Linked DNA regions of Homo sapiens. The protein of the gene in region 3 purifies or fractionates together with the protein of the main gene of each other region. This does not show direct contact. Each region holds a gene or a part of one and is shown on either strand. Other genes may lie near its edges. The genes, in order: QNG1, SDK2 and XKR4.

Evidence for each region.
Region 1: the proteins of XKR4 (region 3) and QNG1 purify together in Homo sapiens (affinity purification with mass spectrometry; one large-scale study listed by BioGRID and IntAct). This does not show direct contact.
Region 2: the proteins of XKR4 (region 3) and SDK2 purify together in Homo sapiens (affinity purification with mass spectrometry; one large-scale study listed by BioGRID and IntAct). This does not show direct contact.

What each region holds. Positions count from the first base shown.
Region 1 is NC_000009.12:83,950,198-83,953,845, reverse strand, and holds part of QNG1 (queuosine 5'-phosphate N-glycosylase/hydrolase), read left to right. Parts: intron 1-2; coding exon of another isoform or gene 3-11; exon of another isoform or gene 12-194; intron 195-3,648.
Region 2 is NC_000017.11:73,641,574-73,645,886, forward strand, and holds the start of SDK2 (protein sidekick-2 precursor), read right to left. Parts: upstream 2,873-4,313; 5' UTR 2,516-2,872; coding exon 2,452-2,515; intron 1-2,451.
Region 3 is NC_000008.11:55,105,001-55,108,648, reverse strand, and holds part of XKR4 (XK-related protein 4), read right to left. Parts: intron 1-3,648.

The DNA.
Region 1 (3,648 bases), on a different chromosome or scaffold from region 3:
AGTGTACTTGAACAAATGATGATCATTTTGTTGGACCCTCACAGGCTGCACCCGGATTTTGTTTTTGTAAAATTCTTTTGGAATCTTTTGAACCTGGGAGGGGGAGGTTGCAGTGAGCCGAGATTACGCCACCGCACTCCAGCCTGGGTGACAGAGCTGGACTCCATCTCAAAAAAATAAAAGAAAAAATAAAAGAAATTGGCTTGGCGTGGTGGCTCACACCTGTAATCCCAGCACTTTGGGGGGCCAAGGCGGGTAGATCACAAGGTCAGGAGTTCAAGACCAGCCTGGCCAACGTGGTGAAACCCCGTCTCTACTAAAAATATAAAAATTAGCCGGGTGTGGTGGTGGGTGCCTGTAATCCCAGCTACTCAGGAGGCTGAGGCAGGAGAACCACTTGAACCCAGGAGCTGAAGGTTGCAGTGAGCTGAGATCATGCCACTGCACTCCAGCCTGGACGACAAGAGCAAGACTCTATCTCAAGAAAAAAAAAAAAAAAGAATTCAATTGTATTAGTGTGTTCTCACACTGCTATAAAGAACTGCATTTCATTTATAGCACAGTGCTTTGGTTTTGCTTTGCTGAAAAGTTCAATTTTTAAAAAATGTACCAGAAAGTGGCAGTATCTTGGCTCACTACAACCTCCACCTCCTGGGTTCAAATGATTCTCCTGCCTCAGTCTCCCAAGTAGCTGGGATTACAGGCATCCGCCACCATGCCCAGCTAATTTTGTATTTTTAGTAGAAACAGGGTTTCACCATGTTGGCCAGGCTGGTCTTGAACTCCTGACCTCAAGTGATCTGCCTACCTCAGCTTCCCAAAGTGCTGGGATTACAGGCTTGAGCCACCATGCCCAGCCAATCTGATACTTTTTTTTTTTTTTTTTGAGACAGAGTCTCACTCTGTCACCCAGGCTGTAGTGCGGTGACACCATCTCTGCTCACTGCAACCTCCGCCTCCCAGGTTCAAGCGGTTCTCTGCCTCCGAGTAGCTGGGATTCCAGGCACCCACTACCACGCACAGCTAATTTTTGTTTTTTTTTTTTTTTTTTCAGACGGAGTCTTGCTCTGTCACCCAGGCTGGAGTGCAGTGGCGCGATCTCAGCTCACTGCAAGCTCCGCCTCCTGGGTTGACGCCATTCTCCTGCCTCAGCCTCCCTCGTAGCTGGGACTACAGGTGCCCGCCACCACGCGCGGCTAATTTTTTTGTATTTTTAGTAGAGACAGGGTTTCACCGTGTTAGCCAGGATGGTCTTGATCTCCTGACCTGGTGATCCGCCCGCCTCAGCCTCAAAAGTGCTGGGATTACAGGCGTGAGCCACCGCACCTGGCCTAATTTTTGTATTTTTAGTAGAGACAGGGTTTCACCATATTGGCCAGGCTGATCTTGAACTCCTGACCCTGTGATCCACCCACCTTGGCCTCCCAAAGTTCTGGGATTACAGGCGTGAGCCACAGCGCCTGACCTAATCTGATACATTTTTAAATGAAAATTGGTACAGAAACCATTTCTCATGAGTACTTGTTTCTAACATACAGTTTTACAGAAAAATCCCCAAAATGGGCCAGGCATGGTGGCTCAAGCCCATAATCCCAACACATTGGGTGGCTGAGGTAAGAGGATTGCTTGAGCCCAGGAGGTCGAGACCAGCCTGGACAACACGTGAGACTCCATTTCTACAAAAAATTTAAAAACTAGCCAGGCGTGGTGGCATGCCTGTGGTTCTAGCTACTCAGGAGGCTGAGGCAGGAGGATCGCTTGAGCCCAGGAGGTGGAGGCTGCAGTGAGCTCTGATAGTTCCACTTTACTCCAGCCTGGAAGAGCAAGACCTTGTCCCCAAAAAAATAAATAAATAAAAATAAACAATTTGCACAAACTAGTCATGTGTTTTTAACGTATACCTATTTACTGAGATTATCATTCATTTTTAGACATGAACAGATTAATAAAGTTAACAATTTTTAATTTAGATAGATTTAGATCAGTGATTTCCCAACCTGGCTGTGCCCCAGAATCACTTAGGAGGCTTAATTCAGATATATTTCCAAAACACCACCCTCAAAGAGCCTGATGAATAGGTGAAAGAAGAGCTATTTTTTAAGCTCTTCAAGTTACTCTGATTTAGAGTAATGCAGTAACTTTGTAAAAGTTCTAATTAGCAAATTGGCTTTCTTATGACTATTACTGTTACTGTGACATACTGATAAATATAAAAAACATAAGCTTTTTGATATTTCAATAGATAACATTTTATTTTTTATTTTTAGTTTTTTTGTTGTTGTTTTTTGAGACAGAGTCTCGCTGTCACCCAGGCTGCAGTGCAATGGCGCAATCTCGGCTCACTGCAACCTCTGCCTCCCGGGTTCTAGTGATTCTCCTGCCTCAGCCTCCTGAGTTAGCTGGGATTAGAGGTGCGCACCACCACGCCAGGCTAATTTTTGTATATTAGTAGAGATGGGGTTTTACCATGTTGGCCAGGCTGGTCTCGAACTCCTGACCTCAGGTGATCCACCCGCCTTGGCCTCCCAAAGTGTTGGGATTACAGGCGTGAGCCACCATGCCAGCCTTTGTTTTTTGTTTTTTGTTTTTTGAGATGGAGTCTTGCTGGCGTGCAATGGCACAATCTCAGTTCACTGCAACCTCCGCCTCCCAAGTTGAAGCGATTCTCCCACCTCAGCTCCCGAGTAGCTGGGATTACAGGCACCCGCCATCATGCCTGGTCAATTTTTATATTTTTGTAGAGGCAGGGTTTCACCATGTTGACCAGGCTGGTCTTGAACTCCTGACTTCGGGTGATCTGCCCACCTCGGCCTCCCTCCCAAAGTGCTGGGATTACAGGCATGAGCTACCGCACTTGGCCTATGTTGTTCTTAACTTTTGTAATCCTTGAACTTTCTATTTATTCATGATAAAATTATGGAATAATTTTTTCAAAAAACTTAACTGTCCAGGTGCGATGGCTCTTTCCTGTAATCCTAGAACCTTGGGAGGCCAAGGTGGGTGGATCACTTGAGCCCAGGAGTTCAAGACCAGCCTAGGCAACATGGGGAAACCTCATCTCTGCAAAATAACAAGAAAATTAACTGGCCTTGGTGGTGAACACCTATAGTCCCAGCTATTCAGGAGGCTGAGGTGGGAGGATTGCTTGAGCCCAAGGAGGTCAAGGCAGCAGTGAGCCGTGATTGAGCCACTGAATTGAGCTACAGCCTAGGCAGCAGTGAGGCCCTGTCTCAAAAAAAAAAAAAAAAAGAAAAGAAAAGAAAAAAATTAACTCATGGTCATAGAGCTTTTTATTGACAATTATTTTATAAAGGTACGATTTAGAAAATATTTAAATCACAAAACAATATCATGAAACATGTAAGCAATTGTTATTTGGAGATTTACTAGTAGTTTTAGTGATACCAGTTAATATTTTAGAGATCCAGAATTTGATTACAAAAATCATTTGATTTCTAAAACCATAATGAGCTTACCAAGAAAATGTTTTATAGAGATGGCCAGGCGTGGTGGCTCATACCTGTAATCCTTGCACTTTGGGAGGCCGAGGCAGGTGGATCACAAGGTCAGGAGTTCAAGACCAGCCTGGCACACGTGGTGAAACCCCGTCTCTACTAAAAATACAAAAATTAGCCAGGCGTGTTGGCG
Region 2 (4,313 bases), on a different chromosome or scaffold from region 3:
CCAGCACCCACCCCCCATCCCCAAAAAAAACCAACCAGGCTAGGCTCAGATAAAATCTGGTGACAGTGGTCGATGTGAAGTTTGTCTCAAGGGAGGAACAATTGTTTCGTCCCTCGTTCTGTGCCATGCCTGGAGAAGCAGGCTTGTGGGCTCAGAAATGACAGTGCTAGTGGCTTCAGCTACCCCCCAAAGGATTAATGTCATGGCCTGAGACTGGAAAAAACTCACTCTCTAACCCCAAAGCAGATAAGAAAGGACCTCATGCCCTAATCCCACCCCCTCCAACACTCAAACCCAGCACTGCCAAGCCTAGGACCACGTTCCCACAATCCTTTGCAAGGCTTGCCTCCAGGGACACACACAGCAGGAGAGGGCTCGATGCTGGAAAACACTCTCGGAGCCAGAGAACACGAGCGGAGCAGCAGGGGACCTGGGCAGCCTGACACGCAAAAAGCCAGCAAACAAGAAAGGCAGAGAGGAAGTGAATCAATCACAGAGACTTTCTCTGCTTCTGACAGGGAAGCCCCTCCCGCAGGAGGCGCAGGGACAGGGGGCCACCTGGCCTTAACTTCAGCAGGAGGGGTGGGATCTTGGCCTCAAGTGGATGGCACAGGTGTGGACGTGGGGCAGGAAGGGACACATGAAGACCCCAAAGCAAGGGCCATCAGGTGCCCTGGGGACTCTATAAGGGCCTGGTCCTAGATGAGACAAGAATTGGTGAGCCACCTGCCCAGGGAAATCATACCATTGTTGAAAAGTCTGTAGAGCAATGAAGTTAGAAGGGTCCAGACAGATGCTGGCATCCCGTCCCTCCACGCCGTCCAGGCTTTTGGCTAGTAACACTGGTTGTCCCAGAGCACAACTGTGAGGCTGCTCCAGGATGAAGGACAACCCATTCCTATTCTGCCAGCATCAGGGTCCTCCTGGGACCCCTCAGAGAGGGGGCCCAGACCAAGGAGACCCCATGCAGCTAGTCCTGGTTTGAGGGAGAGAGGCTCAGAACTCATCTGGTTCCAGACCTGCCTCTGCCCCCAGATCACAGAGTGGCCTTGGGCAAGTCATTTAATGCCATTTGGCCTCAGTTTCCCTATCTGTTAAATGGCTACTAGAATAAGATGACCTCTGAGGTCCTCGCTTGTTCAAAGATTTTATGATGATCATAAAAATAATAACTTTTATTACCCTACATTTATAGGGCTCGTTACAAAATTTCGAAGTGCTTTTATGTAAATTACCTCGTAAAATCCTCCCCTCAGCCCTGTGAGTGAGAGCTGATTATTTTCATCTCTTTGATCTTGGCTCTCTGGATTGCCTGGCGCACGAGGCGGCGTGGGGAGTGGGTTGCAGCCCCCACAGTCCGGACCCCTAGGGTGGGTCTGGCCCCCTCCTGAGCCTGCGAGAGTGAAGGCCTAGCCCTGCGAGTCCTGGAGCTCGGTCCAGGCTTCGTCTCCCTCCGCCCCCAGCAGGCGCCGCTCGGACACCGCTGACACCACTGTCTGGATCGGCGAACCCCAAAGTCGAGGAACCGCCGGTGCAGCCGCCCTTCACCTCGGGGACCTGCCCGGGGACCAGGGGGACGTCTGGGCATCCACCCTCAGGAAGCGGGCAGCGCAGATCACACCTCGGATCCTTCGTAGCACTCCCAAACCCAAAGCCACCAGCCCTTCTCCACCGCGAGGCTGCTCCCGGCAGCCACAGGTCACAGCAGCGAGCGGCTGCACAGACTATCGAGCGAACAGCGGAGGCTGGAGGCAGGGGCGGGGATGCTGGGTGTGGGTGGATGGGTAGGAGGGGAGGCCTCAGACCCTCCCTGTGCACCACCCCCCGGTGGGTCCGCGGCTGCACCCGCGACCTTGGCTCCAGGCCCGCGCAGCGAAGCACCCCCAGCCCCAGCGGCTGGCCGAGCAGCCAGGGGCGGGCTCCCGTACGTGGCCAAGCCGGGCAATTGCTCTCCCCGGGCGAGCAACCCGGCATCCAGCGCTCGCCCACCCCACTCCCTCGCCCCGGGGAGGCCATCGCCTGCCCGGCAGGGGCCCTGCCCTTCCCCGCAGACACCGAGCAGGGAACCAGGAGCTCGGTCTGGGAAGCTCAGCGTAGCCGAGCGTGGAGCCCGGCACGGAATGTCGCTCCCCTCCCAAGCCGGCGCAGGGCAGCCACAGCAGACGGGGGGAGGGGAGCGCCCCTCCCACTTCACCTTGGGCTCTTCTCTGCCTCCCCAGGTCGTCCCCACCTTCCCCCATTCGGAAGCCACAAGTCTCGGAGAGACTGCCCCACCCCCAAAAGAGCCCCAAAACTTGGGAGATGGGGTGTCTTGAAACTCCCTGGAGAGGGCTCTGCCACGGCTAAGCCGGGTGTCCAGGAGGTCACCGTGAGGCCGGCCAGCTCCCGCCGCCCCTCCCCCGCCCACTCTCCCAGCCCCCTCCCTGTCCCCACGTGGGGGTCCCTCCTTACCTTGGGCTCTGGCCGCGCGGATCTGATGCAGAGCTAGCAGTGTCCAGATCAAAAGCCCCCACATGGTGACCAGCCTGGAGAGGGGTCCTCGGGGTCTCCCTTCCCTCCGCCCTGTTTTATAATCCTGGTGGGGTCCGATACCCCGTGGCTTAGTCCCAGGAAACAGTCAGTCTACGCGGCTCCGTGCCCCGGGGTGTAATATGCCCGGGAGGGGCAGCGCTTGGCTACCCCAACCCTTCCTCCTCTTCTGTACTAGTCCGAGCCCGGCAGCGCGCCCGGAAGGCGAGGGGCGAGCAGGGAGAAAGAGGCCAGGCCGCCCTCTCGGACTAGGGCGCCTCTCTCCCTTAGCACCCCAACTCCGACTTCTCCCAAACAGGGCGGCCTCTGCGATCCGGCCGGGTCGCCGGCCGAGCTCCGGAATAAATGGACAACTTCAGGAAACTTCCTCCCGTGGCCACGTTGCCCGCCCCCTCCCCGCCCCCTGGTTGGGTTCTCCCGGCCGACGCAGTCACCGCCGTTCCAGGCGCCGGGCCCCCGGGACCCGGCCAGAGCCGAGCGCAGTGGCAGACGCGGGTGCGGGGGTTCTTTTAGGGGCGCCGGTTTCGGGGGACGCGGTGAGCATAGCGGTCCGAATCTCCCTGGAGCTGAAGTTTTCTTCTCTCTAACTTTGCAGGCAGCATCTGGCGGGGCCGAACCACCCCCTCTGGGCTCCACCGCCCTCGCGCCGAATCGGGAGACGCCGGGTCTCCTCCGGGGGCGCTGGGGCCGGGCGCGCCCTCGGCTCCGCGCCCAGCCGGCTAGCAAACTTTGCGGGTCCCGGAGCCGGGCGCGCAGCCCTGAGCGCCCATGTCCGCGCCAGCCGCGGGGCGGCGGGGGAGGGTGCTGGGCTTCGCGACGCGGGCTGTCGCCGGCGCCCGGGCGCAGAGCCTCCTGCCGGCCCGAGGATGGAGACCGGCGGCTCTGCCCTCCGCCGCGCCCCGGCCGGAGCTCTCGGGAAGACGCACGGAGAGCCCGGCGGGCAGCCCCGGCTCCGGGGACGCGGCGCCCCTTCGGACGCCCGGCGATCGCCGACCTCCCGGGCCGGAGGAGCAACGGCCGCCCCAGCGCCTCGGCCGCCGCTGCCGCTCGCCGAGCCCGCCGCCCTCCGCTTCCCGGGCTCGGCGTCCAGAGAGCCGCTCCTGCCTGCGCCGAGCCGGAGCTGCGGGGGCAGCGTGAGCCGGGGACGAGCGCGGCGGAGGCGGAGACGCGGAGAGGGGGGCCGAGCGCTACCCCGTGGCCGCGACTGGAGAGCAGCCTGCGCGCCGGGAGGGGCGGCGGCGGCGGCGGCGGCCCCGAGCCAGGCCCGGGAGCGAGCCCCGCAGAAATACAATCCGACTGCGCGGCCGCGGGCGCCCAGCGGCTCTGGGACCCGCAGGGGGGCAGCAGTGCCAACCTTCTGCCGCGCCGGGAGAGATGCGCGCGAGCCCCTCCGCTCTCTGCCCAGCCTTTCCTTCCAGCCTCGCTCGCGCCCCTGTCTCAAAGGCCTCATAGGACTCCCAGAGTCTCCTATAGTCGGGAGCCCCCAGCCCCCTTCCGGACATGGAGTGATTGGTGGGGAGGCGGCGGTTGGGAAAAGGGGGTCGGTCAACCGATTGATTCCAGTTTCCCCTTCCCAAGTCAGGCTCTCCAAGGTCTGGAAATGCTCAGGGCGGAGGGGGAGACATCGGGAGGCCTGGGACCTGCAGAAGCCTGAGAAAGTGAAGTTGGTGCCAAGGAGCGTGCGTTCTTTGTTTCTTCTTTTTTCCTTCGGAGCCCAGCTTGTAAAGAGTAGAAGAACCGGACATTGGTGGAGGAATTCAAACAAGAGAGCCCGGAGGCGTCCT
Region 3 (3,648 bases):
TAACACCAAAGAAAGTTTTGCCAATAATTTACTTTAATATTATTTTAATATAAATACAATTAAAACTTTCAACCAACTTGTTTTTCTGAAAAATGACTCTCCCATTATGATGGGTCTATTTATATGTCCCAATGACATCCAAACTCAAAGCCTGTGAAGCCAATAGATTTCCATGAATGACAGAGACATGACTGAGTCAGAGATGAATAATGACATAGCCTCTGAAGCTTTCAACTTTCTGCCATTCCTTTGAATAAAACAGTGTTTTAACACTTTTCTTAACAGTCCTCACCCCCTATAATCCTTCATGACTCCTTCATGCCTTCAAAATACAATCTAAATTCCTTTCATTATCTGGCCCAACTAGTTCTTCATCTCATCTCTAGCTACTCTCCCTCCCTCACTCCATATGTAGAGCATGCACTTAACCTGCCTTGTTCTTTCTTGCCTCTCTGCCTTTACACATTGCATCCAGGGCTCTAAAGTCAATGTCCCACTTTACTCAGAAAGCAGATTTTTCTCATCCCTCAAACCTTTGCTCAGATATCCCCTCTTCCAGAGAGTCTTACCTGAACCATCAAGGCAGTTTGCGTTTCCTGTTTCTATCGTGCTTATTTTCTTCTATTGAGATGGTCTACTGACTTTTCTGTCTTCCCTATTAGAGAGTAGATTCCTTGAAATATATATATGTTATTCATCTTGGAATAATTAGTAACAAGCACAGTGCCTTGCACATAGCAGGTGCTCAGTGTGTGTTGAATGACTAATTAATTTATATGTATAGAGAGGAAACACATATATGCAGAAAATAACCATTTGATAAACTCAGCAAATGGCACCAATCTTGCCTAATCTATATCAGAATTCAGGACTAACTCAGAATTGAAGACCACCTTTTTTAATAGTCAAAGGTGTAACCTATATCCTCCTTAGTTTTTCTACCCATTCTTTATCTCTAGAACCTCTTTATCATTTGTAATTAACTTTTCACATATTCACATACATTATGCCATGTAATCATTAAAACTACTACGAGATCATGTTCCTTAGCTGGGATTTAATAAAACAACCTCAGTATGTCCAAATGGTATAGTAAGTTAGGCAATGAACTGGGAGTTCAAAGAGCTAAGCTCAAGTCTCTGTTTTACTGTTTAACTACCAGTGTGTTATTGGAAAGATCCCCTAATCCATCTAAACTGCAGCTCCCTTTCCCACTTTGCCATCCACAGTGAAGGTAAATTGTTATTTTTATACATTGTTGTCATCATTATCCAAGTTGGCATTTGGAGGTAGCCAGTTCAGCCAGAAAAAGCATAGACTGTATGGTAAAATGGGCCCCGTTTTTAATCCTAACTACACTACATAATAGTTGGGTGACCCTATTAAGAGGTTAAGCCGCTTACTTAACCTCTCTGAGACAGTTGTCTCACATATACAGATACTAATAATTTTCTTTTAGGTTATTTTAAAATGTAGATGACATAAAAAGTAGAAAAAAACATTTGTATATTTTTAAAGTGCCAATAAAATTGTTATTATTTTTGTTTGGCCAGTTTTAAGAATGGCATATTTATCCAAGTGCTTTGCATGCATCATTATAAGAATGTTTAATAGATGTGACTTTAAAAACTTAACTGATAACTGTACCTTAGCTTATAAAAGGCTCTGAGAAGTCCTGCTGTAGAGAGAGCTGTTTAACTTTGTTTAATCTGTCATTTTCCCAACTTATTTGAACATGGGACACAATCAGTGCCTTCTGGAATAGCAAGCATGACAAGAGCAGAAAAAACTGCATTTTCCTCACATTTTTCCCAGATGACTCTCATGATGGAGACTCAAAAACAAAACCCAGAAGAGTAAGAATAGTGAAAATGCTCCCCACTCTACCATCCACTGACTCATTATTTACAATGTGCATATTTTCTGGAAAATAATTAACTATGTACATACATACATAGGAGAAATTCAGGTAGAGTTTTAAGAGTAAACTTCATAATTTCTGAAGGAAAAAGACATTTGGAGGCAATTGATCAAAAGCATGAGGACTAAAAACTGTTCTCTTAGGGAATTTGTGATTCCCACTGGCTAAACTGCACTCTTAGTAATTTCTGGAATCATATGAGAAAAATAAGAAAGGAAAGTACTTTCGCATTCATTCACAGGCACAGTTCCTTTAAAGTCATAATTGCTCTTTTCACATGGTAGCAAAAATTCACTTTATTATTTCAAATAGCTCTTTCCCAAGCTCACCTCCTGCGACTTTAAAAGCTGCCATTAATTTCCCATTAGTAAACTTTAATTAAAATGAATATGTATCATTGCTTTTAGCAGTTGCATTGTAACATATGTATAAATACATGCAAATCTTACCCACAATGTTTCAATGGCTATTTCTAAACAAGCAAATGCTTTGATGTTATTTCAAAAGACTGTATTTAGAGAAAGCTTTTAGAATCTGGTCCTTCCCTAAAATAATTAGAATTTCATGGAAACACAAGAAGCAGTTACCAACCTAGCTAAAATCTATTTTATTGATCCCAGAAAGTAGCATGTTAAAACATGAATAATGACCTCTGTGCTTTGAACCACTCAGTACTCTGGTGTTTCTGCAATATTTGTGTATAATGTATTGAAAAGAAAAGCTAGAAGAGGCACAGGGATGCTTCTAATTTAAGGAATCATAGTGAGTCTAATAGAAAAATCTGAGATGAGTTGCACTTCGTCGGCTTATTAGCAAAGATGCGTCTACTCCCCCAAAGTTCCACATGAATGTTCAACACTCAGAGAAATAGAAACATATTAGAGCGCATCTGAGTGTTAAGTTCCATAAGCTTTCTTATCCCTTTCCAACTTCCTACATTAGGCTAAAGTTTTGTTTTTTTGAAAAATATACTTCATAAACAGAAAATGATGCTGATTAGTCTTAGATCACGCTTTCACCAGATTACTCTGGCATCCCCCAAATATTTTAATCAGAATCTGAGAATAGTTAGATTAGATGATAATTCAAACTTATCTACTACACACATTATTCTGAAAATGTTGACAAATATTTCCAGAATATTATATCTGATAATATTTCCAACTACAATATTCCTCCTAGATGATCATGCATTATCAGTATTAACTTTAAAGCCTCTAAGGAAAATACTATAGAAATGCTTAACTAAAAGGAGCCATGTGTGACCACAGTTTCTCCAAGTCTGGGTCAGTTAATACATTTGTCTGACAGCCTGCGGTTTTCTTTCTACATTCAAACCTTACCCTTCCATCCCTTCTCTCCCCGCCCCCACTCCCTACCTCTGAAATAACTTTTCTGTATGATAAGTTGGCCCAGTGGCTATGGTCTCTCTGACATGTTTTTAGGCTCATATCTTTTCCTAATTATTTCTCACATTCTGTATATTATTCCCCTAGAAAATTAAGAATCATTTTTCAATTGGGGAGATGTTTGGTTTAGAAGGTATAGTAAACACAACTATAATTAAAAGGACTTCCTCGGTTCACAGAATTTAATATCAGATTTTTCATAAAGAATCAATCTGTAAAAAAAATTACAGTTTTTCAGTTAACAGGATAGAGAAGTATTTGAATTATTTACATAAGTCTAGAAACTTGAAAGGTGGTTAAAATTAAGTGATTTCCAAA